Regions from separate parts of the Homo sapiens genome. Here regions 1 and 2 are each linked to region 3. Evidence: fine-mapped expression QTL. A gene starts in region 3. Each other region holds a variant in brackets. All regions are shown on one strand. Distances are from middle to middle.

The links. PIP is the estimated chance that this variant, and not a neighbour inherited with it, causes the effect.
Region 1: its variant is fine-mapped to the expression of ARHGEF18 in whole blood (TOPMed, PIP above 0.99).
Region 2: its variant is fine-mapped to the expression of ARHGEF18 in skeletal muscle (GTEx, PIP 0.97).

What each region holds. Positions count from the first base shown.
Region 1 is chr19:7,455,182-7,463,357 of GRCh38, reverse strand. It overlaps ARHGEF18 (Rho/Rac guanine nucleotide exchange factor 18), which reads right to left. Exons shown (of 29, transcript NM_001367823.1): 18 at 6,955-7,031; 19 at 4,668-4,846; 20 at 3,364-3,455; 21 at 1,024-1,206. Among named protein-coding and RNA genes, the nearest start is that of PEX11G, 30 kb to the left of the region's middle. The variant C/G (reference allele first, on the strand shown) is at 3,501.
Region 2 is chr19:7,430,165-7,438,340 of GRCh38, reverse strand. The region is part of intron 10 of ARHGEF18 (Rho/Rac guanine nucleotide exchange factor 18); the gene reads right to left. Among named protein-coding and RNA genes, the nearest start is that of ARHGEF18-AS1, 39 kb to the right of the region's middle. RefSeq lists a silencer at 1,917-2,104. The variant T/C (reference allele first, on the strand shown) is at 4,428.
Region 3 is chr19:7,345,630-7,353,805 of GRCh38, reverse strand. ARHGEF18 (Rho/Rac guanine nucleotide exchange factor 18) reads right to left here and starts at 4,869. Exons shown (of 29, transcript NM_001367823.1): 1 at 4,565-4,869.

The sequences.
Region 1 (8,176 bases), 110 kb before region 3:
GTGGCCAGGCACAGAGGTGGGGACAAGAACATTCCAGGCCAAGGTGCGGGATATGAGAGTGTCCCCAGGGGGCCAAGAACAATGGCCACTGGAGCCGGGTGGAAGGATGTCAGTGGGCCTGGAGGGAGAAAGACTGACCCCCGTCTCTGCCGTCTTATTCTGCGGAAAGGCTCTGGAAGGCAGGGGCTGAGTCGGCTTCCCTCACTGTTGAAAGAGCAGATTGAGGCAGGGCGCGGTGGCTCACGCCTATAATCCCAGCACCTTGGGAGGCAGAGGAGGGTGGATCATCTGAGGTCAGGAGTTCGAGACCAGCCTGGCCAACATGGTGAAACCCCATCTCTACGAAAAATACAAAAATTAGCTGGGCGTGGTGGTGGGTGCCTGTAATCCCAGCTACCCAGGAGGCTGAGGCAGAATTACTTAAACCCAGGAGGTGGAGGTTGCAGTGAGCCGAGATCACGCCACTGCACTCCAGCCTGGGTGACAAAGCGAGACTCCATCTCAAAAAAAAAAAAAAAAAAGAAAAGAAAAAAAGAAAGAGCAGACTGGGCGCTGACTGCCTGCTCAAGCGGCCAGCCCAGGGGCCTGGCGGCTGTGTTAGAGCTGTGCGTGGGGACCCACTGAGGGAGTGTGCGTGTGTTTTTCTGGGGATATCACCAGGACCCACCTCCCAGGAAGAAGAGGAACCTCTGGTAGGTAGGGAACCAGTCTTAGTCAACTTCAGATCCTCCCCACGGCCCGGCTTAGAGCCTCTGCATGCAGGGAGCATCAGAGCGGTTGTTGAACGGGGAGAAAGTGCTTTATGTCTGCAAGGAGCGGCTTGGCCCAGATTATGTCTAAGGCCCTTCTGGCTCTCACAGGCACCGGGGGGCGGTCAGTGCTGCTCCTGGGCCCCCCCCACATAGAAGCCTGTCCTGGACAGGGTGCCGTGTCGGCCACAATGAGCCGTGAGCCTGGCCTGGGGTTCCCTGAGGAGCCCACCCCGGCAAGACTGCACCCTTGAGGTGTGGGCAGCCAACTTACTCTCGCTCATGGCCGACTTGAGAATTAGCTCCCCCTGCAGGGTCTCGGATGGGTCCCCTCCACGGAATAGGCCTCGGGGCTGGGGCAGGTCTTCGAGGCCGCCCATCTCGGCCATCTCCAGGTAGATCTGCTGTTTCTCTAGGAGGCTCTGTGCGATCAGCTGGTCTTTCATGCTCAACCGCTCTGCAGAGTGATGGTGGAGGTGGCAGTCAGCCGGGTCGGCCTTCCCTGGAATCATCTGAGCCCCGGGGACTGGCCTAAGGATGAGGAACCCCGCTGGCCCTGCCCTGAGGTAGGCTGCCCCCTTGTGTCCTGCATTCCTGGGAGGTAGGGGAGGGCATGGCCTTGTCCTCTGATTATTTTCCCCCTTGTTATAAAAATCAGGTTAGCTGTGGTGGCTCAGGCCTGCGATCCCAGTACTTAGGGAAGCCAAGGTAGGAGGACTCTTGCGGCCTGGAGTTCGAGACCAGCCTGGACAACATAATGAGACTCTGTCTCTACAAATAAAAAATTAGCTGGTTGTGGTGGTGCATGCCTGGGAAATGAGGCAGGAGGATCGCTTGAGCCCAGGAGTTCAAGGCTGCAGTGAGCTATGACTGCAGTACTGTACTCCAGCCTGGCCAACAAAGCAAGATCCTGTCTCTAAAAGAAATAAAATAAAATCAAACACAGTAGGGTGTGAGTGAGGATTGTATCAGGCCCATTTATTAGTCTGGGACCAACTTAGAGCCTTAGAAAACTGAATTTTCCATCCTCCCTTTCTTTCTTTCCTTCCTTCTTCTTTTGAGAAGGAGTCTCGCTCTGTCGCCCAGGCTGGAGTGCAGTGGCACAATCTCGGCTCACTGCAACCTCCACCTCCCGGGTTCAAGCGATTCTCCTGCCTCAGCCTCCCGAGTAGCTGGGACTATAGGCACGCACCACCATGCCTGGCTAATTTTTTGTATTTTTAGTAGAAACGGGGTTTTGCCATCTTGGCCAGGCTGGTCTCAAACTCCTGATCTCAAATGATCCACCTGCTTTGGCCTCCCAAAGTGCTGGGATTACAGGCGTGAGCCACCGCACCCAGCCTAATTTTTAAATTTTTTGTAGAGACAGGGTTTTGCCATGTTGTCCAGGCTGGTCTCAAACTCCTGGCTTCCAGTGATCCATCTGCCTCAGCCTCCCAAAGTGCAGGGATTACAGGCATGAGCCACCATACCAGGCCACTTATTGTTTGAGTATTATCCAATTTAGAAATGAATAATACAGGGCCGGGAGCGGTGGCTCACGCCTGTAATCCCAGCACTTTGGGAGGCCGAGGCAGGCAGATCACGAGGTCGAGAGATTGAGACCATCCTGGCCAACATGGTGAAACCCCATCTCTACTAAAAACACAAAAATTAGTGGGGCGTGGTGGCGGGTGCCTATAGTCCCAGCTACTCGGGAGGCTGAGGGAGGAGAATCTCTTGGACCTGATAGGCAGAGCTTGCAGTAAGCCGAGATCACGCCACTGCATTCCAGCCTGGTGACAGAGCGAGGCTCTGTTTAAAAAAAAAAAAGAAGATAAAATAAAAAAAAATACAGACAGTGAAAGGGAAGAAGGGAGCTTGCCGCAGGCTACAGGGCACCAGGAATTGTTCTTGACAAAGTGCTCACTGAGCGCGGGCGAACCTTAATACCACACCTCGAGAGGAGCCAGACCCAAAAGGCCGCGCGGTGTGACTCCATTTATGTGGAATGTCCAGGGCAGGCCAATCTACAGGGACAGGAAGTAGATTCCTGTTGCCAGGGTTGGGGCATGGGGTGGGGAGTGACTGTTAAGGGGGACGGGGCTTCTTTCTGGGGTGGTGGGATGTTCTAAAGTTAACATGATTCTGGCTGCATAATTGGAAATGCACTGAAATGCCCCTGAACCCCACGCTTGGGAGGGTGAGTGCTGTGGTGTGTGAATTACATCTCAATCGTGTAATTAAACAGGGAGGAGGAAGCTCTGGAAGGAGGCTGTGGGGACCCTGTGCTATTCCTTCGTATGGGACTGGGATGCCCTGTTGAGCTCCTGGCTGCACGAGGATGGGGTGGTGGTGGCGTGTGTGGCTGTGTGGTCGGCTCTGGAAGGGGCTCAGGTCCTCTGGGCTCTCCTCCCTCCCTCTCCCACATACCCCCAAAGGGCTAAGTGACCTCTGGAGATCGCTATGTCATGGCACAGCCCGTTCTAATGCTTCACAGAGCTGCAGGACATGGCACAGCCCACGGGAAAACACCGGGTCACCTGGGGGGCAGTTCACCCTCTGTGGCCAGTCCTGATGGAGGGCCCAGGGCTCACCACACAAGGGGTGTGCCCAGACGCTGTCTCCCGCTCACCTTGAAAGTCCCGGAGTCTCGTGGCGCGGGCCTCGACCACCTTCCTTTCCTCTTCGGGCAGGCTGAAGGGCCCCTCCTCCTCGTCAGGGCAGCTGCAGGGAGAGGAGTCGGGTGGGTAACTGTGCTTCCCAGGCAGG[C/G]CAGCCTCGGCACAGACGCTGGTTCTGCAGAACCAGCCGCCACGACCGTCTCTGACTTTGGGAGTGATTTAGCTTGTTCGTGGTGCAGGAGGACGAGGAGGGGAAGAGAGAGAGCCACTGACATTCATCCCGCCCCAAAGCGCCAGGGCATAACCAGGAAGAGGCTTTACATGCCTGCCTGTGACTTAGAGGAGGAGTCCAGGGGACAGCGGGCTTGCAGAGGACCTGCCAGGTGCAGGTGGGTGGCTGCAAGCCCCGTAGAGCTACAGCTACTGTGGATGGGGGAGTCTGAACCAGATTAAGGCACCAGGAAGCCTCCGGGAATCAAGAGAGGGAGTGGACAGGCATGGTGGCTCACGCCTGTAATCCCAACACTTTGGGAGGCCAAGACAGGAGGATGGCTTGAGGCCAGGAGTTCAAGACCAGCCTGGGCAACACAGTGAGGCCCCATCTCTACAAAAATAAAAAATCTAGCTGGGTGTGGTGGTGTATGCCTGTAGTTCAAGCTACTTGGGAGGCCGAGGGGGTAGGATGGCTTGAGCCCAGGAGTTTGGGTTGCAATAAGCTATGATTGTGCCAGCGCACTCCAGCCTGGGTGATAGAGCAAGAGCCAGACTCTAAAAAACAAAACAAAACAAAACAAAATAGGCTGGGCGCAGTGGCTCACGCCTGTAATCCCAGCTACTCGGGGAGGCTGAGGCAGCAGAATCGTTTGAACCTGGGAGGCGGAGGCTGCAGTGAGCCGAGATTGCATCACTGCACTCCAGCCTGGGTGACAGAGCAAGACTCTGTCTCAAAAAAATAAAAAATAAAGAGAGGGAGGGGAAGCCAGCTGGTTCTGGGCCCTGAGGGGTGCTCGGCCCAAGGAGGAAGGACAAGATGCCATGCCCTGCTCCAACAAATCTGGCCCTAGAATGCAGAGAGCCCGCCATGGCAGGTGCAGTGGCCCACGCATGCAGAAAGGCCCAGGTTACAGCTGCCTTTCTGGGCCCGTTGGCCTCAACGTCCAACAGGTTGAGTCATCAGAAGGAGCTGGAATGGCGTCATGGGTCCCAAGCTGGGATGAGGGAGTTCAAGGTCACAGCTGATGGCCAACGGTCGAAGCCAAGGGTGGACCAATCAGCGGAAGGAACACAGTGGGTGGGGAGACCCCCAGGCCCTCCTCACCTCTCCACAGCCCTTTGGATGTGGGCCATCCAGGCGTTCCTGTCCTCTTTGGAGCTCGTGTAGATTTCATACATCTCCGGCCCTTGCAAGGAGGCGCTGATCAGAAACATCGCTTTCTCCTCGTTGGCCACTTCCCTCACGATGAGCTTTTGTAACGAGATGACGGGTGGCTTTGAGTCCTGCATGAGTAGAGGGCATTGGGGAGGTCACCCTTTACCCCACAGCACCCAAACAGCAGGGAGGTCAAGGGCCTGGTGAGGGGAACTAAGAGTGGGGGTCACGCTCCTCATTTCTTTTCAAACAATTCAAAGCGGAAATATTTTGCCATCTGGGGGAAAAAAGATACTATTGCAGTGAAATCCTAGAAACCTTTTTTTTTTTTTTTTTTTTTTTAAACTATCTTGGAGGCCAGGTCTTGCTCTGTCACCCAGGCTGTAGTGCAGTGGTGCAATCATTGTTCCCTGCAGCCTTGACCTCCTGGGCTCAAGTGATCCTCCCACCTCAGCCTCCTGAGTAGCTGGGATTATAGGCACGTGCCGCCAGGCCCAGCTAATTTTTGTATTTTTTGTAGAGATGGGATCTCACTATGTTGCCCAGGCTGGTCTTGAAGTCCTAGGCTCAAGTGATCCTCCTATCTCGGCCTCCCAAAGTGCTGAGATGACAGGAGTGAGCCATCTTGCCCCTTAGTATCCCGATAATGTGTCAATTTCATCAGCTTAAAAATTTTTTTTTAAATAGTCGGCAATGCACATACACACGAGAAAGCTCAAAAGATACAACGGTATGTAGTATATAACAACAGATAAACCCATCTCTGTCTTGTGCCTCAGGCCACCCAGAGCCACCGGTATTTCTAGTCTGTCACGCATCCTTCAAGAGACAATGCTTCCACAGACCAGCAAAATGCACATTTTAACTGGCTAGAGTGGGCTACACTGTGTTCCCCACAAATTCATATGAAGTCCTGAGCCCTAGCACCTCAGAATGTGGCTGTCTTTGGAGATGGGGCCTTTAAAGAGGTGATTAATGTGCGGGTGTGGTGGCTCACTCCTGTAATCCCAGCACTTTGGGAGGCTGAGGCAGGCAGATCACTTAAGGTCAGGAGTTCAAGACCAGCCTGGCCAACATGGTGAAACCCCATCTCTACTAAAAATACAAAAAGTAGCCGGGTGTGGCGGCAGGTGCCTGTAATCCCAGCTACTCAGGAGGCTGAGGCAGGAGAATCACTTGAACTCGGGAGGTGGAGGTTGCAGTGAGTCGAGATTGTGTCATTGCACACTCCAGCCTGGGCGACAGAGTGAGACTGTCTCAAAAAAAAAAAAAAAAAAAAAAAAAAAGAGAGGTGATTATGGCAAAATGAGATCATATGGGCGGGCCCAAATCCAATCTGACTGGCATCCTTCTAACAAGAGGAGATTAGCACAGAGGCACACACAGAGGGATGGCCACTCGAGGACACAGAGAACAGATGAGCACATGGCTGCCTACAAGCCAAGGGGCCTCAGAAGAAACCAACCCTGCTGATACCTTCATCTTGGACTTTCAGCCTGCAGAAACATGAGACAATAAATTTATGTGGTCTAAACCACCCAGTCCATGGTACTTTGTTTACAGCAGCCTCAGCAAACAAATACACTGGTTAAGAACACACCAGCAGCTGGGCACGGTGGCGCACGACTGTAATCCCATCACTTTGGGAGGCCAAGGCGGGAGGATCACTTGAGGTTAGAAGATGGAGACCAGCCTGGCCAACATGGTGAAACCCCGTCTCTACTAAAAATACAAAAAATTAGCCAGGCGTGGTGGCGGGCGCCTGTAATCCCAGCTATGTGGGCCTGGAAAACTCACAGGTGCCCCTTCCATGGGCAGTTTCAGCCAACCTCCCAACAAGGTCACAGCAAGCAGGGCCCTTCGTCTGTTTTTTGTTTGTTTGTTTTGTTTTTTTGTTTTGAGATAGAGTCTCGCTCTGTTGCCCAGGCGGGAGAGCAGTGGCGCAGTCTTGCTGGAGAGCAGTGGCACAATCTCAGCTCACTGCAACCTTCACCTCCTGGGTTCAGGTGATTATCCTGCCTCAGCCTCCTGAGTAGCTGGGACTACAGACATGGGCCACCATGCCCGGCTAATTTTTGTATTTTTAGTAGAGGTGAGGTTTCACCATGTTGGCCAGGCTGGACTTCAACTCTTGACCTCAAGTGATCTGCCCACCTCGGCCTCCCAAAGTGCTGGGATTATAGACGTGAGCCACAGCACCCAGCCGACCCTTCGTCTGAAGAGACAGGATACATACCACAGAAGCAAAGACGTATTTCTGATCTTTTTCTTGTAGCAGCAAAAGTACGTCGGTCAGCAGGATAGCCAGGATATCTGGGAAAACAGCATGGAAGGATGCATCTTAAAAGTCCCATAGCCAGGAGGTCTTGCTGGCCACCCCCGCGGATGCCACTTCCCAGGAAGGTGTAAGCAGCATGATGCTTCTGCCTGGGCCTAGAAGTTTCCTTTCTGCCTTGCCTGCACCCCCCATCACCTTTCCAGGTCTCAACCTTCAGCACCAACGAGCAGCCGGAGCCTCCTCTAAGTCCCTTCCGTGTCCAGAGCTCAAACCAGGGCTCCCGCCCATGTCAGGCCACTGTGCCCGGCAATTCTCTTTGCTGTAACAACACCTGCTGGGTCTGACCTTTGAGAATCTGATACGGTTTGGCTGCGTCCCCACCCACATCTCATCTTGAATTCCCACGTGCTGTAAGAGGGACCTGGTGGGAGGTAATTGAATCATGGGGGCAGATCTTTTCCATGCCGTTCTCGTGATAGTGAATGAGTCTCACAAGATCTGACAGTTTTATAAGGGGGAGTTTCCCTGCACAAGCTCCCTCTCTCTTTGCCTGCTGCCATCCATGTAAGACTTGACTTGCTCCTCCTGCCTTCTGCCATGATTGTGAGGCCTTCCCCCACAGGTGGAACTGTTTAAGTCCATTAAACCTCTTTCTTTGGTAAGTTGCCCAGTCTCAGGTATGTCTTTATCAGCAGCATGAACACGGACTAATACAACATCTCTCCCTCTGATGTCTCAGATGTGAACGGAGCTCTCTGTTCTCCCTGCTCCTGGGTCACCAGGACCCGAGCCACAGCAGCGATGCAGGCCAGGGGTGGTCTCAGTCCCCTCGTGCCCCTCAGTCCCCCTTGGCGCCTTGTCCCTGTATGAACCTCTCGTGCTGTAAGGCTTCCTGCACATAGATGCAAATCCTGAGCTGCGTTTCAAGGGCAACGCCACTTTTGGGGAGCTGCTTCCAACACCCCTGTCTAAGTCAGATACGCTTTTGCTAATTCTCTCACACTGCAGCCTGCTGGCTTCCTTAAAGCATGTGCTGGACTTCTAACTAGTTTTTCCGTTTTTTGGCTTGTTTCTCTCTTTCAGCCCAGTGACTGATGCCTTAAAAGGCTAGGCACCAGGTCTTGCCCGGTGGGGTGTATTCCTACCATCCAACTCGGCGCCTGGCAGGCAGAAGGCGCTA
Region 2 (8,176 bases), 85 kb before region 3:
TCGCTTGAGGCCAGGAGTTCAAAACCAGCCTGGGAAACATAGCAAGACCCCGTCTCTACACAAAATAAAAAAATAGCTGAGCACAAGTGGCGCACGCCTGTAGTCTCAGCTACTCGGGAGGCTGAGGCAGTAGGATTGCTTGAGCCCAGGAGTTCAAGGCTGCAGTGAGCTATGATTGTGCCACTGCACTCCAGCCTGGGTGACAGAGCGGGACCTTCTCGAAAAGAAGAGGGGAGGAGAAGGGAGGAGAGGGGAAGGGAGGGGAGGGGAGGGGAGAAGAGAAGAGAGAAGAGAGGAGAGAAGAGGAGAGGGGAAGGGAAGGGAGGGGAGGGGAGGGGAGGGGAGGAGAGAGGAGAGGAGAGGAGCTTAGAGAAGAGAAATAGAAATCTGATTTGTCAGATCAGGTGCAGTGGCTCATGCCTGTAATCCCAGCACTTTGGAAGGCCGACGCGGGTGGATCACCTGAGGTCAGGATTTTGAGACCAGCCTGGCCAACATGATGAAACCCCATCTCTACTAAAAATACAAAATTAGCTGGGCATGGTGGCGGGCACCTGTAATCCCAGCTACTCGGGAGGCTGAGGCAGGAGAATCGCTTGAACCCGGGAGGCAGAGGTTGCCGTGAGCTGACATCATGCCACCGCACTCCAGCCTGAACAACAAAGTGAGACTCCATCTCACAAAAAAAAAGAAAAAAAAAAGAAATCTGATCTGTCCTGTGGCCTCCTGGCTCCTAGGTCCCGATACACCATTGCCTTGTCTATGTTACAGGAAGAGAGCAGCTAGAAGTCTCTTTCTTGGGAACACGGAGTTATAAACCATGGGGTGGGCAGAGCTTACCCTAGGGAAAACGTACTCGCAGCAGCTCTCCTGGGAGAGGATTCAGCATTCTCTGAGCAACTTTTTTTTTTTTTTTTTGAGACGGATTTCCGCTTTTGTTGCCCAGGCTGGAGTGCAATGGCGTGATCTCAGCTCACCGCAACCTCTGCCTCCCAGGTTCAAGCGATTCTCCTGCCTCCCGAGTAGCTGGGATTACAGGCATGTGCCACCACACCCGGCTAATTTTGTATTTTTAGTAGAGACGGAGTTTCTCCATGTTGGTCAGGCTGGTCTCGAACTCCCAACTTCAGGTGATCCACCCACCTCGGCCTCCCTAAGTGCTGGGATTACAGGCTTGAGCCACCGTAGCCGGCCTCTGAGCAACTTTTAATTTAGCTGTAAATTGAAGGTGATTGTTAACGAGCAGGTGAGTGTGTGTTAGAGATTTTCTGGCAGAGGAGTCAAGAATTCTTGCCAATTAAGACATCAGCCACTAAGCTGTGTAACAGCACATTGCACATATACTCAGTAGCTGTTCATTCTTTCCACAGCCCAGCACAGCAAAGATGACATTTGTTCAGAGGCCAGAAACATTCTGACGTCATAACACATGACTAACAATTACTATTGTTATAGGAGACAAAGCAATTGAAGATGTCACTCACAAAGCAACACCTATGTAAAAAAACAGGAATCCTAAACCAAAGGCGACACGGTCCAGGACAGGCATTTCTTGCCATTTCTGTACAACACTCAACTCCACCCAGGCAATTATGACCTAAACGTACAAATATGGCGCAAATCCCGAGATGTATCCTTTGCCCAGCAGCATCCTGGCAGGGCTGACAGATGGTTGCTTGTGGACTGAGGTCTTGACTGAAATCAGATTAATTCTGCTCTAATACAATAGTCCATAGAAGAAAAAGTCACTAAAAATAGCATCTGGCTGGGTGTTGTGGCTCACACCTGTAATCCCAGCACTTTGGGAGGCCGAGCGGGGTGGATCATTTGAGGTCAGGAGTTCAAGACCAGCCTGGCCAACATGGGGAAAACCTGTCTCTACTAAAAATACAAAAATTAGCTTGGCAGTGGTGGTGCACACCTGTAATCACAGCTACTCAGAAGGCTGAGGCAGGAGAATTGCTGGAGCCTGGGAGGCAGAGGTTGTGGTAAGCCGAGATCATGCCACTGCACTCCAGCCTGGGCAGCAGAGTGAGATCCTGTCTTGAAAAAAACTAAAACCAAAAAACCAAACAAAAAAAACAGCATGTAAGCAATGCCAATTCCCAAAATCAAGTTGATGGCAAAAAAAAAAAAAAAAAAAGAAGAAATGCTGATTCCAAAGAATTTTAATAAACTATTGGTAATGCTAAATCTATGGGAATATATGTAAACCCTCCTTTGATGATTTAGAAGACACTGAAGTTTTCACATGTTGGGGTCATGACCAGGGACAGCAGGTTAGAGACCAGTCTGGGCAACACAGTGAGATCTCGTCTCTTAAAAAACAACAACAAAAAATTAGGCAGGCATGTTGGTGTGTGCCAGTAGTTCCAGCTACCTGGGAGGCTGAGGTGGGAAAATTGCTTGAGCCCTGGGGTTCAGGGCTGTGGTGAGCTATGACTGCCCCACTGCACTCCAGCCTGGGTGACAGAGCAAGACTCTGAAAAAGAATGAAATGAAATAGAATAAGAGGTGGACAGTCATAAATTGAGTCTTCCTGGAACACATGCGGCCACTGAAATAGCTGATGGGTCAAGACATGAGTCAGTGGCCCTGCCACAGACCCGCTGTATTGATTATGTCCTTTTATTCCGGATTTGTGATGCTCTGACATCTTGGGGCTTTGCTGACCATGGATGCACAGCCCCTCCCAGGCCAGTTTCTAGAGACAGTAAAGGGTCTGCACCCAGTGCAGAGCTCAGACCCCCAGTTGCCTCCTTTATGGGGCTCTCACACTCCTGGCCACGGTCCCGCTGCCCTCATCACCTCGGGGCCCCATCCTGAACCTGCTCACCCTGCCTGGCCCATTTGTTCCCCGGGAAACCACAATGAAGACTCCTGTCCATATTTTCCCCTCTGTCCCTCAACTGACCCTGGTGCTTCCCCATGTGGCCCCTGTGTGGTGTGCCCTGCCTCCTGCTTCCAGAGGACTGTGAATATAAACTTCTTCCTTCCTGACGGTCATTTCTGGGTCTGTGAGTCTCACCATACTGGGTTAAGACAAATCCTGGGTACCCTAAAACACCAGCTGCCCAGAGGCCAGAAGTCTGCTTGCCAGGGATGGGAGAGCCTCAGATCTTCTGACGCCTTTTTTTTTTTGAGATGGAGTCTCGCTCTGTCACTCAGGCTGGAAAACAGTGAGGGTGATCTCGGCTCACTGCAACCTCCACCTCCCAGGTTCAAGTCATTCTGCCTCAGCCTCCCGAGTAGCTGGGATTACAGGTGCCTGCCACCACGCCCAGCTAATTTTTGTATTTTTAGTAGAGATGGGGTTTTGCCACATTGGCTAAGCTGGTCTCAAACTCTTGACCGCAGGTGATCCGCCCGCCTTGGCCTCCCAAAGTGCTGGGATTACAGGCGTGAGCCACTGCGCCTGGCCTATGGTGTTTCTTTTTGGGGTTCTAAGATCCATTTCGGTGACTCTGAATATACTAAAAGCCCCTGGGTTGTACTCTTAAATGGGTGCATTGTATGGTCTGTGAATTACGTCTCAATAAACCTGCTCAACCAACAAACTCACACCTGTGATGGACAGGCTTCTTTCTGTGGGAGGAGAGCAAAACATCTGATTTGCAGCTCAACATATGGTGGGAATTAGTCGCTCTGCTCTTGGCTCCGAGAGAGACAGGGATACATATTTATCTCCTGCTACGGTTTTTCCTACAGCAGACGGCCATGGTGCTTGGGGTTCAGCTTGTGCTGTCCAGCACTTTCTGTGCAGCTGCAAAAGCTACTCAGAGTCTAATTAGCGCCTCCTGCCCACTGCTGAGAGGTGCGATCGATTAGTGAGCACCTGGCCCGCTGTGGCCACTGTATGCCGCAGAGCTCTTTCTGCAAGGGGACCTGGAGGATGGATGGAAAGAGGTGAACGGTGAAAATCAAAACAGTTCTGACCTGAGGGGGAAAAAATATACCCTATTCTCAGCAACAAACACAGACAGTGGCCTATCCTCAGGGTGATTTTTAAAAGTTGGTTTTGTCTTGGTTTCATGAATTCAAGAGTAGTCCCTGGCCAGGCACAGTGGCTCATGCCTGTAATCCCAGCACTTCGGGAGGCTGAGGTGGGAGGATCGCTTGAGGCTAGGTGTTCGAGACCAGCCTGGGCAACATAGACCCTGTCTCTATAAATTTTTTGTTTTTTTAAAAAACACTAAAACAAGAGCAATCTCTGAGCAAGTTAGATGACAAAGCTTTCGTAACAGGTGTCAGGATCCCACCTGCATTACTTTACTGGGACAAAAGACTCCATACTTTTTTTTTCTTTTTTTTTTTTTTTTTAATGAGACAGATCTCACTCTGTCGCCCAGGTTGGAGTGCAGTGGTGTGATGTCAGTTCACTGCAACCTCCGCCTCCTAGGTTCAAGTGATTCTCCTGCCTCAGCCCC[T/C]CGAGTAGCTGGAATTACAGGTGCCTGCCACCATGCCTGGCTATTTTTGTATTTTTAGTAGAGATAGGGTTTCTCCACGTTGGCCAAGCTGGTCTCAAACTCCTGGCCTCAAGTGATTCGCCTGCCTCGGCCTTCCAAAGTGTTGGGATTACAGGCCTGAGCCACCGCACCCAGCCTAAGACCCCAGACTTTTTCCAGTGCCGCTGTGCTTCCTTTGTGACTCAGTCTCTCATAAATCCTGTAAGCCACAGGCTTTGTCCTCTGACAGCCAAGCACACTCCTTATTAGGTCTTACAGGAACAGGACTCACCAAAAATTACATGAAAACGGCTGAGTAGTTACTAGCCTGTTCAAAGTGATGTCCAAGAAAACCTGATACACTTTTTTTTTTTTTTTTTTTTTTTTTGGAGACGGAGTCTTGCTCTGTCACCCAGGCTGGAATGCAGTGGCATGATCTTGGCTCACTGCAACCTCCGCCTCCCTGCAGTGGTGCAATCTTGGCTCACTGCAACCCCGCCTCCTGGGTTCAAGTGATTCTCCTGCCTCAGCCTCCCGAGTAGCTGGGACTACAGGTGTGTCCAACCACACCCAGCTAATTTTTGTATTTTTAGTAGAGACGGGGTTTCACTATGTTGGCCAGGCTGGTCTCAAACTCCTGACCTCAGGTGATCCACCCGCCTTGGCCTCCCAAAGTGCTGGGATTACAGGTGTGAGCCACCGTGCCCGGCCTGCCTTCTTTTTTTTTTTTAAAGAGAGACACATTCTCGCTCCATCATCTAGGCTAGAGTACAGTGGCATGATCACAGCTCACTGAAGCCTCCAATTCCTGGGCTCAAGGGATCCTCCAGCCTCAGCCTCCTGAGTAGCTAGGATTACAGGTGTGTGATACCATGCCCAGCTAATTTAAAATTTTTCTGTAGCAACGGGGGTCTCATTATGTCGCCCAGGCTGGTCTTGAATACCTAGCCTTAAGTGATCCTCCCGCTTCGACTTCCCAAAGTGCTGGGATTATAGGCATGGGCCAGTGTACCCGGACCTGATATGACATATTAAGTGACTGTCTTAATTGGTTTCAAACTGTCCTTTATAAATAATCTAGAGGCACACTGACTTCCAGAAATGCCAATTTGTAAGCAAGAATTGCCTGTCTTAAATTGCAGATTCCTATATAGCCTCTCACTTGTAAAGGGACCCCAAACATCTTTTGAAGGCAGCTGGGCCCTAGTCCATAAGTCTCCAGTTTTCTGCAAAGGACTATTCAAGAAACAAACAGGGCTGGGAGTGGTGGCTCAAGTCTGTAATCTGAGTACTTTGGGAGGCTGAGGCAGGAGGATCCCTTGAGCCCAGCAGGTCGAGACTGCAGTGAGCTATGATGGCACCACTGTATTCCAGCCTGGGCGACGTAGTGAGACCCTGTCTCTGAACAAAACAAAAACAAAAAGAAAGAAACAAGTGAACCAGACAAGCACCTCGGTTTCAAGGCCTGGTCTCAGAAATAATGACTCCTTTTCTCACATTTAGGGAGGTTTTCTGTCCCCACCCATCCTTCTGTTCTTTGTTTCAGCCAAGACTTTTCTTTTAGGCTGAGAGTGCAACCTGGCTCTAGAGAGTTCTAGCAAGCACTGGCTTACTGGTGAGTGTTCGAGAGACAATTAAAGAAAATCTGATGCCAGATGAAGTTTTCAGTTCACAGTTCCTGCCTTTTCGGCCACCTGGGAATAGACTAAATCGATGAGAAGATGACTTCATTGATTTCTCTTTCTTGCCTCATTTTGATGTTACACAAGCAAGACAGTATTAAAAAGAATAAAAAGGTAGGAGGAAGAAAAAAACCCCTTCATCCCGCACCTCAGGGGACAAAGAAAAATTAAAAAAGACATCTTGCAGCTTAGAAGGTAAGTATGACTCAGAATATTCTTCCCAAACCTGGTACTATCCAAAAACAAAAAACAAAACGAAAAGCCTCCTACCCCAAACTACACGTCAAACCCCCAAAATACCATTTAAAAAAATGTGGTAATTCGTAGCAACAGGTACTATTTATTGAGTGCTTCTTGCATTCCAGGCTGTGTCCTGAGGACTTAGTATTTCTTTTGTTTGAGCTGGAGTTTCGCTCTTGTTGCCCAGGCTGGAGCACAATGGCGCAATCTCGGCTCACCGCAACCTCCGCCTCCTGGGTTCAAGCGATTCTTCTGCCTCAGCCTCCCGAGTAGCTGGGATTACAGGCATGCGCCGCCACGCCCGCTAATTTTGTATTTTTAGTAGAGACGGGGTTTCGCCATGTTGGTCAGGCTGGTCTCAAACTCCCGACCTCAGGTGATCCACCCGCCTTGGACTCCCAAAGTGCTGGGATTAAAGGCGTGAGCCACTGAGCCCGGCCTTTTTTTTTTTTTTTTTTTTTTTGAGATGGAGTCTCACTCTGTCGTCCAGGCTGGAGTGCAGTGGCACGATCTTGACTCACTGCAACCTCCGCCTCCCAAGCGATTCCCCTGCCTCAACCTCCTGAGTAGCTGGGATTATGGCCGCCCACATCCATGCCCAGCTAATTTTTATATTTTTAGTAGAGACGGGGTTTTACCATGTTGGCCAGGCTGGTTTCGAATGCCTGACCTCAAGTGATCCGCCCACCTCGGCCTCTCAAAGTGCCAGGATTACAGGGGTGAGCCACCGTGCCCGGCCTCACTTAATATTTCTTAAGTCCTGCAGTCCTCACAATGACTCAAAAGTAGGTACTACTGTTATTTTATCTTTTTATGTTTTGAAACAGGGTCTCACTCTGTCGCCCTGGCTATAGTACACAGGCACGATCACGGCTCACTGCAGCCTCAACCTCCTTGTCTCGAGTGATCCTCCCACCTCAGCCTCCCGAATAGCTGGGACCATAGGTGTGTGCTATCACACCTGGCTAATTTAGAGATGGGATCTGGCTATGTTGCAAAGGCTGGTCTCGAACTCCTGGACTCAAGTGATGCTTTTGCCTTGGCCTCCCAAAGTGCTGGAGTTCATTTTTGTTATGAAGTATAACATTTAGGTTGAGGATGGTTGGTATATTTATTTATTGTCTATGGATGTGGGCATTATTGTTCTATTTTATTTACTTATTTATTTGAAGAGAGGGTCTCGCTCTGTCACCCAGGCTGGAGTACAGTGGCACAGACTTAGCTTACCGCAGTTACGAATTCCTGGGCTCAAGCAGTCCTCTGGCCTCAGCTTCCCAAGTGGCTGGGACTATAGGCGCATACCACCATGCCCAGCTAATTTTTTAGATATTTTTATAGAGATAGGGTCTCCCTATGTTACCAAGGCTGATCTCGAACTCCAGGCTTTAGCTGTCCTCCCACCTCAGCCTCCCAAAGTGCTGCGATTACAGGCAACACCATGCCTGGCCTGTGTTAATTTTGGGAGCTGTGTATTTGGGTACAGTGGCTCATGCCTGTAATTCCAGCACTTTGCAGGGCTGAGGCGGGAGGATCACTTAAGGTCAAGAGTTTGAGGCCAGCCTGGCCAACATGGTGAGACTTCATCTGTCAAAAAAAAAAAAAAAATTAGCCAGGCATGGTAGTGTATGCCTGTAGTCCTGAGCACTCGGGAGGCTGAGGCAGAAGGATCGCTTGAGCCTGGGACCTTGAGGCTGCAGTGAGCCATGATCATGCCACTGCACTCCAGCCTGGGTGACAGAGCCGGCCTTCATTTCTTTTAAAGAAAAATAAAAAATGACAGGGAAGTATCTCAAAAGTTAAATCCACCAA
Region 3 (8,176 bases):
AATTTTTGTATTTGTAGTAGAGGCAGGGTTTTGCCATGTTGGCCAGACTGGTCTTGAACTCCTAACCTCAGGTGATCCTCCCACCTCGGCCTCCGAAAGTACTGGGATTACAGGTGTGAGCCACCACACCTGGCTAAATCTCACTTTAAAAAAATACAACAGGGATATCTATTTCTTTTTCTTTTTCTTTTCTTTTCTTTTTCTTTTTTTTTTTTGAGATGGAGTTTCACTTTTGTTGCTGAGGCTGGAATGCAATGGCGCAATCTCGGCTCACTGCAACCTCTGCCTCCCGGGTTCAAGTGATTCTCCTGCCTCAGCCTCTCAAGTAGCTGGGATTACAGGCGCCCGCTACCATGCCTGGCTAATTTTTTGTATTCTTAGTAGAGATAGGGCTTTGCCATATTGGCCAGGCTGGTCTCGAACTCCTGACCTCAGGTGATCCAACCACCTCAGCCTCCCAAAGTGCTGAGATTACAGGCGTGAGCCACTGCACCCAGCTGGAATATGTATTTCTAATGATGGCAGGCTAGCTTATTGCAGATTTATTCTCCCACCAAGAACAAATAGAAAAGCTGGACAAAATTGGAAGAGTGAAAAACCACCCTTGCTTGGAAGGCATTGGCAGTCAGAGTTGGAAGAATCACGGCCCTGGAAAGAAAGGAAACCTAGGGGCCAGGCGCGGTGGCTCACACCTGTAATCCCAGCACTTTGGGAAGCCGAGGTGGGCAACTCACTGGAGGTCAGGAGTTCGAGACCAGCCTGGCCAACATGGTGAAACCCCGTCTGTACTAAAAATACAAAATTAGCCAGGCATGGTGGTGGATGCCTGTAATCCCAGCTATTCAGGAGGCTGAGGCAGGAGAATCGCTTGAACCTGGGAGGCAGAGGTTGTGATGAGCCAAGATCATGCCACTGCACTCCAGCTTGGATGACAGAGCAAGAGTCTATGTCAAAAAAAAAAAAAAAAAAAAAAGGCCAGGCACGGCGACTCACACCTGTAATTCCAGCACTTTGGGAGGCCGAGGTGGGCGGATCATGAGGTCAGGAGATCGAGACCATCCTGGCTAACACTGTGAAACCCCGTCTCTACTGAAAATACAAAAAAATAGCCGGGCGTGGTGGCAGGCACCTGTATTCCCAGCTACTCGGGAGGCTGAGGCAGGAGAATGGCGTGAACCTGGGAGGTGGAGCTTGCAGTGAGCCCAGATCATGCCACTGCACGACAGCCTGGGTGACAGAGTGAGATTCCATCTCAAAAAAAAAAAAAAAAAAAAGGAAACCTAGGAAAGTGAGAAGGACATAATGTAATGCTTTTCCCTCACAAACAAGTTGTTGATTTGAACACAGTTCTTGAGTGAGTGGGAGGCAGACCAGAAAAAGCCTGAGAACCTGAATGTAGCTCTTAGCAATCTTATGTTGGGGAAATAAACATTGGAATTCAGGGCCCAAAAAGAGGAGGTGATTGCCACCCCTAAAAGACTACACCCTAGGAGCAAGGAGGGACCAGACATAGACTAGCCCTCACCGAGAGCAAAATCCATCTTCAAGTCAGCATAGGTCACAATCAGATTAAAGTGATCTTTCCTTTCTCTAACTGCCTGCCCAAAGCAAAAATAAACGCTCTATGGAGGAAAATGACACCATAAAGAGACACAAATTATCCCTATAGTTTTTCACAAACAAGGCCTGGCATTTAATCAGACTACCAGGCATACTAGAAGACAGAACCTCATGACCAAAAAACAAGAAGAAACACAGACAATAGCAACAGCCCTACAGGAGATAAAGATGCTAGAATTAAAAATACAACAGGCCAGGTGCAGTGGCTTACATCTGTAATCCCAGCACTTTGGGAGGCCAAGGCAGGTGGATCACCTGAGGTCAGGAATTCAAGACCAGCCTGGGTAACATGGTGAAACCCTGTCTCTACTAAAACTACTAAAATTAGCCAGGTGTGGTGGTATGCATTTATAATCCCAGCTACTCAGGAGGCTGAGGCAGGAGAACTGCTTGAACCCAGGAGGTGGAGGTTGCAGTGAGCTGAGACTGTGCCACTGCACTCCAGCCTGGGCAACTCTGTCTCAGAAAAAAAAAAAAAAAAGAGAGAGAGAGAGAGGCAGAGAGAAAATACAGTAGCATATGATACAGGGATGGCTGGATGGGATCCTTAAGAAGTCCACTCTAGCTGGGCACAGTGGGTCATGCCTGTAATCCCAGCACTTTGGGAGGCTGAGGTGGGGGGATCACAAGGTCAGGAGATCAAGACCATCCTGGCTAACACGGTGAAACCCCGTCTCTATTAAAAATACATAAAATTAGCCGGGCATGGTGGCGGGCGCCTGTAGTCCCAGCTACTTGGGAGGCTGAGGCAGGAGAATGGCGTGAACCCGGGAGGTGGAGCTTGCAGTGAGCCGAGATCGTGCCACTGCACTCCAGCCTGGGCAATAGAACAAGACTCCATCTCAAAACAAACAAACAAACAAACAAACAAACAAACAAAAGAAGTCCACTCTAGCAGACTTGCTTACAGATTGAGATCCACCATGGGTATGACCCAGAACATTTCAGAAGATGGTGGGACTGCTCAGGAAGGAAGGCCTGGGGACAAGGTCAGTATGAAGGCATAGGTGAGGCTGACAATGTTTTCTGATCTATTACGTGCCAGACACTGCACTAAGATCTCACAGACCAAACTTCATAAAGGCTGAGCGAGGTGGTTCATGCCTGTAATCCCAGCACTTTGGGAGGCCAAGGCAGGCAGATCACCTGAGGTCAGGAGTTCAAGACCAGCCTAACCAATATGGTGAAACCCTGTCTCTACTAAAAATACAAAAATTAGCTGGGCATGGAGGCGTGTGCCTGTAATCCCAGCTACTTGGGAGGCTGAGGCAGGAGAATTGCTTAAACCCGAGAGGCGGAGGTTGCAGTGAGCTGAGATTGCACCAATGTACTCCAGCCTGGGCGATAGAGCAAGATTCTATCTCCAACACACACACACACACACACACACACACACACACACACACACACACACACACCCACCCCAAAAAACTCAACAGCCTTTTAACAGATGAGCAAACGAAAGCTCAGAGCAGTTAAGTCATTTGCCCAAGGCCACATAGAGGCCAGGGAACTGGGATTTGAACGCCCAGCTGTCCAACACAGTCACCATGTCATCTACAACAGTATCGAGCATCAACATATGCCCATCCCTTTGTCATGGGCTAGGGGATGCCCAGGGAGGCATGGGAGACAGCCCAGACCAGAAGCACCGACGTGTTTGCAGTTGCCATCTACTGGTTCTTCAAGGCATAATGAAAAGGCTGCCTCTACCAAGCAGCCCTCCCAGAGTGACTCCCAGTCACAGCAAGGGAGTTGAAATGTGGCTGATTATGAGGGCAACCCTTTCCTGACCTCCTTTGGTTGTCATGTTCTTTTCTCAGAACTGCAGGTGACCTGGCCTTGGAGCATCAGCCCCCAGCGTCACTTCCTAGCTCCATCCTCTCTGGCCCCAGCTGTCCACTCTAGCTCAATTCACTCCCTCCTGGTTCTGGGGCCACCTTCCTAGACCTCAGGGTGCCTGAAGCCTGCCCTGCAGCATTGGGGGCTGGCAGGAAACAACAGACTGGGTGTGCCCAGCAGAAACCGCAGCCTTCCTCCCCCACCCCTCCCAGTCCCAGGCAGGCGGTGGTGCAGGAGGTCCCCCTAAGAAGGGGCCACGAGAGGAGACAGGGGATGTCTCCCAAGGGGGAGAACCCTCACCTGGAGGAAGGCTGCCTGGGTGGAGGGATGTGCTCTCTGGATGATTTCAGATCAGGACAAGACCCTTCTCAGGGCTGGTTGTCAGCCATCAGCCTTAAGTGTGAGTTTGTTTTGACAGTGGATTCAGAATCTGCAACAGGGAGGTTCTTGGGGGGCCCGGAATCTGCAGTTTAAGATGCAAAGGGCACCTGAGCCTTTGCCCCAGCTCCCCCATTCATTCTCTGTCTCCTGTCTCCACGCAGGAGGGCCTTGGCTACAAGGAGCTCTATCGTCCTTTCTTTGCTTTTCTTTTTCTTTTCTTTGTTTTGAGACTGAGAGGCTCACTTCAACCTCTACCTCCCGGGTTCAAGCCATTCTCCTGCCTCAGCCTCCCGAGTAGCTGAGATTACAGCTGCCCGCCACCACGCCTGGCTAATTTTTGTATTTTTAGTAGAGACGGGGTTTCACCATGTTGGCCGGGCTGGTCTCCAACTCTTGACCTCAAGTGATCCGCCCTCCTCAGCCTCCCAAAGTGCTAGGATTACAGGTGTGAGCCACCGCGCCCGGCCTCCACCCTCCTTTCTTACCTAGCAGCCCCTCAAGGATCCCCGTCCCCTGGGGTGACCTCTTATGACCACAGATCTCTGCACAATGAACGCAAGGGTCAAACAGCTTCCCCCACCCACTCAGGAAGCAAGTTGACTGCAAGGGGGAGAGAAACAGTGATGTATGTCTGCTCGCTGTCCCCCTAGACTTCCCAGACCCCACTGCCACTCTGTCCCGATGGGTCCATCTCTCTCCACTTCCCAGGATAAGTACTTACCAGATAGAGCTCAGTTCTTCAACCTGCAGGCACCTAGCCTGGCTAACAGCTCCTGCAGCTCCCATGACCTACGGCCAGCGTTTCGAGCTGGCCCAAGGGAACCGCTGGCTGGGTAGAGCCTGGGATAACCACAGAATGACCCAATAGCACCTCGACTTCCTCTTTCTCAACTGCCTGCCTGCATGCTTGCCACTCTGCTCCCAGCTGCAGGCCAATCTAGGGGCCTAAAAAGAGCCCAGAGGATGGGGGTTCTGGAGGCAGAGAGCCCTGCTCCCACCCCTCAGCCCTGCGCATGCAGGTGTCTTGAGGAGGAGGGGTGGGGAGCTGGAGGGAGGCCCAGCGTCCTCAACCCCCACCCCAGCAGCTTCCTGTGGAACCAACTGCTGAAGAGGAACAGGGTGTGGGGGCCTCACCCAGGCACATGGGTGTATAGACAGCAACATATAGGGACGTGCAGGTCATGTGTATCCGTAGAGACTCAGGCACCCAGACACACACCAGCATGGTGGGTACACACAGAGAGACAGAAACACACGTGGCTACATTGTTACATGGGTACCTGGAAGCTGGCGGAACAACATGGTGTGCTGGTAACGTTTAACAACCACCTCTCCGATTTGTAGCCATTGCCAATTCTCCTGGTGTAAATACCCCCAGCATGGCCGATTTCACCTACCAGTGTGATGTCACCGAGTGTGGAGTTGATAGGAAATGCTCAGATTTGGCTTTTTTTAGAAAACAACAACAACAACAACAAAAAACTGTTTATTTTATTTTTAGAGATAGGGTCTCATTCTGTCATCCAGTCTGGAGTGCAGTGGAAAAATCATAGCTCACTGCAGCCTCAATCTCTTGGGCTCAAGTGATCCTTCTGCTTCAGCCTCCTGAGTAGTTGGGATTACAGGCACATGCCACCATGCCTGGCTAAGTTTTTTGTTTACAGATAATTTATGTATAATTTATATATACTTTATATATAATTATATATGGATTATATATAGACTTATATATAATTTATATATAATTTTTTATATATAATTTTTCTTTTGAGACAGGCTCTCACTCTGTCATCCAGGCTGGAGTGCAGTGGGGGTGATTTTGGTTCATTGCAACCTCCATCCCCTGGGCTCAAGTGATCCTCCCACCTCCGCCTCCTGAGTAGCTGGGACCACAGGCACACATCACCACGCCTGGCTATTTTTTTTTGGTTTGTATTTTTAGTACAGACAGGGTCTCACCATATTGCCCAGGCTGGTCTCGAACTCCTGGGCTCAAGCAATCCTCCCACCTTGGCCTCCCAAAGTGCTGGGATTAGAGGCACGAGACATGGCGCCCAGCCTAAGTTAATTTTTTTTTTTTGTAGAGACAGGGATTTTATTATGTTTCCCAGGCTGGTCTCAAACTCCTGGGCTCAAGCAGTCCACCCGCCTTGGCCTCCCAAAGTGCTGGGATTACAGGCATGAGCCATGATGCTCCACTAAACTTGGCTCTTGGGCTGGCTTCAGCCTGTCACTGGAGTGAGTACTCTACAAAAAATTTAAAACTTCGCCACATTTGGTGGTGCCTGCCTGCAGTCCCAGCCGCTCCGGAGGCTGAGGCGGGGAGGCTCACTTGAGCCCAGGTGTTCAAAGCTGCAGTGACCTATAATTGTGCCACCGTACTCCAGCCTGGGTGACAGAGTGAAATCCCATTTTTTTTAAAGAAAGTTAAAATGGTAAATTTTACGTTATGCCTATTTTACCACATTTAAATTAATCACTTTAACATTATTTTTGCTGCATTTTCCATAATCTATGCTTTTTTTCCTTTTCCTTTTTTTTTTTTTTTTTTTTTTTTTTTTTTTTTTGAGATGGAGTCTTGCTCTGTTGCCCGGGCTGGAGTGCAGTGGTGCAATCTCAGCTCACTGCAACCTCTGCCTCCTGGGTTCAAGTGATTCTCCTGCCTCAGCCTCCCAGGTAGCTGGGATTATAGGTGACCCCCACCACACCAGGCTAATTTTTGTATTTTTAGTAGAGACGGGATTTCACTATGTTGGCCAGGCTGGTCTCGAACTCCGGACCTCAGAGGATTCGCCCACCTCAGCCTCCGGAAGTGCTGGGGTTACAGGTGTGAGCCACCACACCTGGCCTCATAATCTATGCTTTTGATGTTGCTTTTGTGTATGGAACCTGTTTGGTAGAAATACTGTATAATGGTTTGCTGCTGTCCATATCTTTCTGACTCACTGTTCGGTGGCATCACTTGAAATTGGCTGTGGCGAGAGTATTTACACCATGAGGACTGGCAATGCTATAAATCAGTGCTCTCCACTGGAGAGGTTCAACATTTACCAGCACACTACTGCACAGCGGTGCACACAGATGGTTTTGGGATACTGCACAATCACACTTCACACATGGTCACACATAGGCACAGGGACTCACAGAGGCAGATACAAGTGTGCACAACTACATGTAGGAGCCACCCCACACACAGAGGACACGAGACACATGCACGTGCACAACAGAGCACAACAGCGCTGCACAACAGGGCTGCAGGCTCCTGGAACACAAAGCTCAAGGACACACCCAGAGGACACACAAGGATACGCAAACACAGACACGTGTGCTCATGGGCACAACTTCACACAGGAGCATGCAGTGTCATGTGGACATGCAGAATGGGCATGCAGACACACATACACAACAAACACCCCGACACACATGTGGACTCACAGCCACAGTCACACAGAACACTCACACACACACACACACACACACACACACACGAGCAGATGCTGCTGGCCAGGCGCGGTGGCTCATGCCTATAATCTCAGCACTTTGGGAGGCCGAGGCAGGTGGATCACCTGAGGTCGGGAGTTTGAGTCCAGCCTGGCCAACGTGGTGAAAACCCATTTCTACTAAAAATATAAACATTAGCCGGGTGTGGTGGCATGTGCCTGTAATCCCAGCTACTCGGGAGGCTGAGGCAGGAGAATGGCTTGAACCCGGGAGGCGGAGGTTGCCGTGAGCCAAGATCATGCCACTGCACTCCAGCCTGGGCAACAGAGTGAGATTCCATCTTAAACAACAAACAAAAACAAAACAACAACAACAAAAAAGAGCAGATGCTGGCCACCTCTGAGAACACCTCTGGAGACACTGACTTGCACACCGGTTGCCACGGGACCACTCAAAATCACTAACACACAGACCCGGAAAGCCCTCACCACAAACACTCACTGGCCCATAGCGCCGCGCTTGTCCCTGGGGACACAGGTGGGGCCATCCCCAGAATCACACCAACGAGACACACACAGAACACAAGGAGACACAGATATACACAGATTTGCACACACCCATTCTGTAACCAGTTGATTATTTCTTTCAGGCAACATGCATTTATCGAGCACCTACTGTATGCCAGGCACTGTGGCAGGTGTGGGATCACGGTGAACAAGACAGACACAAACCCCCGCCCTGCAGGAGCTCCAGCTGGGGGAGGCAAACAGTGAATCAGGAAACACACCTAGGAGATAAATTCAGGTGCTGTGAATTGCCGCAACAGGAAGTAAACAGAGTGATGCGATAGAGTGGGTGGGGGAGGTTGATGCTTTAGCTGGGAAGGTCAGGG